Homo sapiens: one gene and its partner. The protein of the gene in region 2 purifies or fractionates together with the protein of the main gene of each other region. This does not show direct contact. Each region holds a gene or a part of one and is shown on either strand. Other genes may lie near its edges.

Evidence for each region.
Region 1: the proteins of DENND2D (region 2) and TCOF1 purify together in Homo sapiens (affinity purification with mass spectrometry; 3 studies listed by BioGRID and IntAct, with this or other methods). This does not show direct contact.

Annotation. Positions count from the first base shown.
Region 1 is NC_000005.10:150,395,697-150,399,470, forward strand, and holds part of TCOF1 (treacle protein), read left to right. Parts: intron 1-585; coding exon 586-1,146; intron 1,147-2,657; coding exon 2,658-2,755; intron 2,756-3,325; coding exon 3,326-3,352; 3' UTR 3,353-3,374; intron 3,375-3,774.
Region 2 is NC_000001.11:111,187,047-111,190,646, forward strand, and holds part of DENND2D (DENN domain-containing protein 2D), read right to left. Parts: intron 2,208-3,600; coding exon 2,166-2,207; intron 1,741-2,165; coding exon 1,656-1,740; intron 1,325-1,655; coding exon 1,085-1,324; intron 636-1,084; coding exon 559-635; 3' UTR 1-558. UniProt on the Homo sapiens protein: Guanine nucleotide exchange factor (GEF) which may activate RAB9A and RAB9B. Promotes the exchange of GDP to GTP, converting inactive GDP-bound Rab proteins into their active GTP-bound form.

The DNA of each region.
Region 1 (3,774 bases), on a different chromosome or scaffold from region 2:
CTTGCCTGGACCCCCTGACCAGGAAGGGCCGAGTGTGGGTAATCATCAGTTGAATGTCTGCATGGCCCCCACTTTTATTATAAATCTACAATGTATCATAGGAAGCCTTACTGTTCATCCACCCCTCACGTTATAGACAGGGAAACCAAGGCCCTGGGAGGAGATGGGTCCTGGCCAGAATCACACTGAAAGTGGGTGGGAAAGTCAGACCTAGAACCCAGGTCTCCTTCCTCCCAGCTCCAGACTCCATCTCCCTCCTTTCTGAATTTTCATTCCATTGATAGATTTCAGGCCCTTTCATTAACATTCTGGAGTCATTTTCTGTCCCCCACCCTAACTGGAGTTTTTAGTATAAAGAGACAGGGAAAAGCTGTAAGTTAGAAATGAAGTCAGGGTGTGAAATTGGTGGAAAGGTGTGAGCTTAGGAGACCAGCTGGGGCAGAGTGACCGCCAAGCCTTGCTCTCCCCATCTGTGCCATTGTAAGAAAAGATGGAGTCACTCCCTGCACCCTCTTCGCTCTTAGGTACCATAAGATCTGTCCCCCAACTCTCCCAGATCTGTGACCCCACATTCTCTCTCCATAGGTGGAAAAGAGGCTGCTTCAGGCACCACACCTCAGAAGTCCCGGAAGCCCAAGAAAGGGGCTGGGAACCCCCAAGCCTCAACCCTGGCGCTGCAAAGCAACATCACCCAGTGCCTCCTGGGCCAACCCTGGCCCCTGAATGAGGCCCAGGTGCAGGCCTCAGTGGTGAAGGTCCTGACTGAGCTGCTGGAACAGGAAAGAAAGAAGGTGGTGGACACCACCAAGGAGAGCAGCAGGAAGGGCTGGGAGAGCCGCAAGCGGAAGCTATCGGGAGACCAGCCAGCTGCCAGGACCCCCAGGAGCAAGAAGAAGAAGAAGCTGGGGGCCGGGGAAGGTGGGGAGGCCTCTGTTTCCCCAGAAAAGACCTCCACGACTTCCAAGGGGAAAGCAAAGAGAGACAAAGCAAGTGGTGATGTCAAGGAGAAGAAAGGGAAGGGGTCTCTTGGCTCCCAAGGGGCCAAGGACGAGCCAGAAGAGGAGCTTCAGAAGGGGATGGGGACGGTTGAAGGTGGAGATCAAAGCAACCCAAAGAGCAAGAAGGAGAAGAAGAAATCCGACAAGAGTGAGTGACCGCTTCTCCCAGCCCACCCCAAGGGCTGCTGGGCACCCCACGGGGGCGGGAGGGACCCTCAGCCAGCACCTGGTCTCATTCCTCCCATGTAGAAAAGAGAGGCTGAGACCAGCCTGGCCAACATGGCAAAACCCCGTCTCTACTAAAAATACAAAAAATTAGCTGGATGTGGTGGCGGGCACCTGTAATCTCAGCTACATGGGAGGCTGAGGCAGGAGAATTGTTTGAACCCGGGAGGCAGAGCTTGCAGTGAGCCGAGATCACGCATTGCACTCCAGCCTGGGTGACAGAGCAAGACTGTCAAAAAAAAAAAAAAAAAAAAAGGCTGAGAAGTGGTTTGTCCAGAGTCACAGGGGCAGCTTGTGGCAAAGCCCGAACTCGATTCCAGAGCACTTGAGTCAGCACTGCCAGGAATGCTCCAGAAGGACGAGGAGTCATGTCCTCTTTCCCCAAGCCCAGTGCAGCAGATCTTGGAGGAACCTGCTTCTCCAGCCAGCTCCTGGGTGCAGAATGGACCAGGAACCAGACTGTCAGAATCCTCATCCCAAACCCCATCTTGTCTCTAGACCTCAGTTTTCCCTCCATAGTAACACTGGCCCTTTACTGAGTGCTGTTCTAGACTCCGCATGCAGCAGGACCTCATTTAGGTAGAAATGAGACTCAGCAGGTAGAAAACTGCGGCTCGGGCTCGGAGAAGTAGAGATGCTGTTCAGGGCCACAGAGTTTTGCTAGGTGGAGCCAGAGTCAAACCTAGGCAGCACTCTCGAGCATCGCCCTGGACGGTGGGTTGCCAGTGACGCCCGAAGAGCCAGCTCGTTCTGGAACAAAAGTCGGGCACCCTCAGAGCAGGACTTGCAGCCCCTTGGTGCTCAGAACTGTGCTAGATTTCCATTTACAGTAGGGATAGATAGTGTCCATTTAAAATAAATTTGCGGGAGTTTTAAAAAGTGAGTTGAGCTAAAGAAAAATGGTAGTCATCCAGGTGGTCCATGGATGGGACAGAAATCATGAGCTGGCCTCCAGGGGGCAGGTGAACTGGCCCTGCTGGGTGATCACCACAGCTGCCAGCCTGTTTTATTTTTATTTTTTGAGACAGGGTCTTGCTCTGTCACCCAGGCTGGAGTTCAGTGTCAGGAACGCAGCTCACTGCAGGCTCAGCCTCCCAAGCTCAAGCGATCCTCTTGCTTCAGCCCCCCAAATAGCTGGGACCACAGGCGTGCACCACCATCCCCAGCTAATTTTTGTATTTTTTGTAGAGACAGGTCTCACTATGTTGCCCAAGCTGGTCTTGAACTCCTGGGCTTAAGCAATCCACCCGCCTCAGCCTCCCAAAGTGCTGGGATTGCAGGAATGAACCTCCACGCCCCGCCCTGCTGGCCTGTTGTGATGGCTTCTGGTGGTGTGGGGAAAGCTGGGAGCCCTGCCCTGTGCACCTCCCAACATTGACCCCAGCACTTAGGATTACCATCTGTTGTTCAGGAACTTTACTTTACTTCCCTTAGGAAAAAAAGACAAAGAAAAAAAAGAAAAGAAGAAGAAAGCAAAAAAGGCCTCAACCAAAGATTCTGAGTCACCGTCCCAGAAGAAAAAGAAGAAAAAGGTAGAGAGTTCCTGGGGTGTCTCAGGCCAGAAAACAGACCCAAACCCAAGCCCCCTCCTACACACCCAGACCTGGTTCCTGCCCCCTTCCCATTTTCGGGGCCCAGTCGGGGGCGTCAGGGGTTGTGACACACCAGGGAAGAGGCTGGCAGGGCATGTTCCCTGAGCACATGGAAGCCGTAGAAGTGGCCTGCCGGAGGTAGAAGGGTGTTGGGGAAGGAAGGAGAGACTCCCCCCAGCACAGGGAAACCAGGTAGACTGTGGCAGGTTTCCAGGTGAAAGGAAACGTTGCCTGGGCTGCGTGTGCCCCAGCTGGCAGGCTAGCCCTGAACAACAGCTGTCCTCACGGCGCGGGGCCTTAGCACCTCAGACACAGATGAAGTTCTCACCTTGGCCAGCAGGGCCTCAGCTGTATTTAGGAGAGCTGAACATCTGTTTGCCTCTGCCCTTGGAGGTCGCTGCAGACCCAGTATCTATTCTAGGGGAATTCACTAGTCCTCAGGAGGTGGGGGCAGCAGTGGGTGGGGAAAAGCTGCAGGTCTGAGAGCCTCTCGTACTTCCCTCCTCACAGAAGAAGACAGCAGAGCAGACTGTATGACGAGCACCAGCACCAGGCACAGGTACGCTTCCCAATCATTCCTGAGCATTCAGGGTGGGAGGACAGCTCTGGTGTCCCCTGTGGTCCCAGAGAGCCAGGCAGACCTGATAGGTGGGCTCTAAGGGGAAAGGAGGCTGGGGAAAGAGGTTCTGTTGCCAAGGGTCCATGGGGCCACTGGGGTGACATCAGGAGCTGGCACTGCAGCATCAGAAGGATCCAGAACAGTAATGGCAGTGGTGACACCGAGTGCACCTGGGTGCAGGGGTTGTGCATGCTTTAGGGGGTGTGCCCTGGGATGGAGCCTGTTTGTAGGTGAGGTCGGATACAGCTTGGTTCCTCCTTCACTTGTGAGCGGTTCATTTTCCTCATGATCCTGTAACTTGGGGGCATTTCCTTTTGGGAAGGAAGATGGTTTACTCAAG
Region 2 (3,600 bases):
ATTCTATCACTCCAAACATATCCCCATGGCCAGGTCTTCCACTTGTAGTCCACTTGATTGTCATATTCATTGCCTTATTTTCCACGAGGAAAATACTTTTACCCATAGTAAAAGCCAAAGACACATATAAAAATAAGATTTTCCTCTTTACTCTCGTCCTTACATGTCCACAGACTTCATGTAGAGAGGCTGAGCCTTTCGACCACAAAGTGTGTTCTGTGTTGAAGATGTTATAATGATGGGAGAGGGCAGTTGCAGCAGCTTCTAACCAAGTGTCTACAACACATGTACTACTGTTTCCTACCTGTGTCACCTCTGCAAAAAATGGAGCTCTGAGCCCAGTTCTGTGAGCATGGTGTCAGAGCCCTCCAAAGTCCTGAGAAATCAATACCAGGGATCCAAATCTCAGACACCAGTTTGAAGCAATACCTGGATACCAAGACTCAGAGTGAGGATATGGATTTTGGGAGCTGACAGTTTTGCTGATCCTGCCACACTGGCAGGGGCTGAAGTCCAGAAATGGTGTGTAGCTCTAGTCATTCTTATTCACCACAGCTCTTATTTCACAGTTTTTTCCCTTGGTTTCTTCTGTTTCTTCTGTTCCTCATATTCAAGTATTTTCTGTTGGAAATAGCCTGTGGGTTCAAATACAGGTGTTAGAGGCATCTGATCTGGTCAGGCAGATTATAATGAGCTCAGGAATAAGGATCAGAAATATCCTGTCTGCTCCCCATACTGCCATCCCTGCCAGGATGTCTCTGGCCTCACAGGTTCTGGAGATCCAGACATTCAGTTTTGTCCAAAAAGGAGCCCATAAACAGAGGATACTTAGCAGGAATTAGCTCTAGACTAAAACAGAGGAAAGGGCTCAGTCCTGTTCACTAATGGGTAAACCAACTTCCACAAAATGGCAGCCCATTAGACATTTTCTTAGGTTTCAGGTTATGTCATTTCAACTCCACTAATAAAAGTCTACCTACAGCTATTTTGTGGGTTTCTAAAGAGAAGTATTCTTTCTTTCCCCTCCTCTTTATTCTAGAGGTAACCCTCTATGGGCTTAGACTGATGGGGACTGTTACTGTACCTGCAGGAGGATTCTTGCTCTTCTCGGCTTCCTGGATGAAAAGTGAGAAGAGCTGTGTCTTCACAAACTTCTTCACAAATCGGCGGTTGGTCTTGGAGGTCAGAGCCTTACAGAAGGATCTTTCTTGGAAGTGGCCTTGCCCATTTGCCTCCCGCTTGATATAGGAAGCATAATGGCCCACAATCTTGACAAAGAACTGCACAAAGGGGCCTGAAACATGCTCGTTGATTTGTTCTGCAGCTGCAGGAGATATAAAGGCCATCTCAGAGGGTAGCAGAAGGATGAAATTACCCAAACTCACCTTCAAGAATGGCTTTCTTGCAGGCGGAAAGCTCCTGGGGAAAGCCATAGGGTAGGGTTCATAATTACTGACTGAGATGGGAATCTGGGTATGAGTTCTCTGCCATTGCTTAGGAAGAATACAATCCCAAATTCAGACTTGCCCTAGGTTCTAGGCCTCTAGGGCTGGTCTAGGACTACTGAATGAGTTCATTTTAGTTCTGGAAGGGAATGATTGAGAAGCATGCCCTTGCACTGCCTGGAGAGACCCAAAATAAGAGTAAGGACTTACTCTTTAACTCATTGATCCCCTGACCAAGAGAGTCTAAGATGTCATCCTGAAGCTTCGGTGGCAGGATGTCTTTTTCATCACCAACCTAGAAGAGGACAGAGCTCCGAGGTCAAGCAGGAAGGAAGTGTGGAGTGAAGGTGGTTGGCAGAAAAGCATAAGGAGGGCATGAATTCTACACCCCCACTCCACCCGCAAATAGCCACATAGGACAGAAACAACAGAAGCTGTTTCTTGGCCTTTAGTTTGACTCTAGACATTAGCAAGGGATCCTCTCCATCCCGGTGGTACTTGATTTATATCCCTTGCTTAAAAGGCACTATCACTGATTGTCTTATAGTGAAGTCATCTGTGTTTATGTCCATGGGCTCCTTGAGAGAGATGTGGTCTTTTTAGCACAGATTCTCACTCAACAAAGAACTTAAATGTTTGTTTAAATAAGTGGAACATGGATGAAACTAGAGTGGTAGAGTTGTTGATAGGCCTGCAGGGGATCTGAACCCAGACACTTACCGACATTAAGAAGGTTCCTTCACAAAGATTGACCAGCAGGACCTGAAATAAACATAGACTGGCTTTCTCTGGTCCTCTTTCTTCATAGACCCCCAGAGGATTTACCGTCTTGATTTCTGCCTGTGGCTGTATCTTTCAGCCCAGGTAGCAACAAAATCAATATCTTCAGTTCTCATTTCCTATCTAGCATTCTCCTTTCTCACCATTCCCCTCTGGAGATCTCAGTTCCATTCCTGAGGAAAGGGTGTGGGTGTTTGTAGGAAGGGAGTAGGAGAAAGAGCTAAGGTAGAAGGGAAATACAAGATGGAGAAATCACAGCCAGTCACTCCCTTAATAAAACATTGACTGCAGAAATTGCTTCTACATGGAGCATTTAGTACATTGTTCACATAAGTGCTTTACACGTTTGATCTCAAGCAACAGTCCCGTGAGGCAGATACAATCTCCATTTTGAAGATGAGGAAACAGACCCAAAGAAGCTGCCCGAGGTCATACTATGCTGCTAATAAGAGAACCAATTTTTTTCCAAGCCTAGACTGATATTCTTGAGATTGCATTCCTCTCTCTACAATTCCCCTTCAACTCCCTGCTCTCTAGAACAGAGACCAACATCTTTTTATTTTTTTCATGCTTGCAACATCTTATGTACAATTTTCTATTAGAAAAACTCCTGCCTCTCGTGGTGGCTCACGCCTGTAATCCCAGCACTTTGGGAGGCCGAGGCGGGTGGATCACGAGGTCAGGAGATCGAGACCATCCTGGCTAACACGGTGAAACCCTGTCTCTACTAAAAACGCAAAAAATCAGCCGGGTGTGGTGGCGGGCGCCTGTAGTCCCAGCTACTCCAGAGGCTGAGGCAGGAGAATGGCGTGAACCCGGGAGGCGGAGCTTGCGGTGAGCCGAGATCGCGCCACTGCACTCCAGCCTGGGCGACACAGCGAGACTCTGTCTCAAAAAAAAAAAAAAAAAAAACTACCTCACAGCTTTGGGCCTTCCAGCAGGAAACAGCAAAGGAAGAAAATGAGCCCAGGGTCAACAGGAAGAGGAAAGGAAAGGAAGTGAGGAGACCATGTGTCTACAGTCCTCAAGTGAGATAAGCACTGGGCTGGAACTTGGGGGACCTGAGTTTTAGCACTGGCCCCATCACTGCCCAGGGAGCCTTCAGTCTAGACCAGAGATTACAAATAGGCATCCTGCTGGCTGATTCCAACCAGCAGATCTGTTTCTTTGATCTTCACAGTATTTTTAAGTAATTGATTTGGTTTCCAATATTTAAACTGGACTATCTCACATAAAGTTTGGATTTGGGGCTTCTCCTGAAAAGTCAGGAGATCTAACACTGGGTCCACATTTCTAAAGGACAACACTCAGATGGAACTGAGTAGCAGTTGCCTGCTTTAGGCAGGGCATGTTCCCACCAGTTTACCGTAACTTC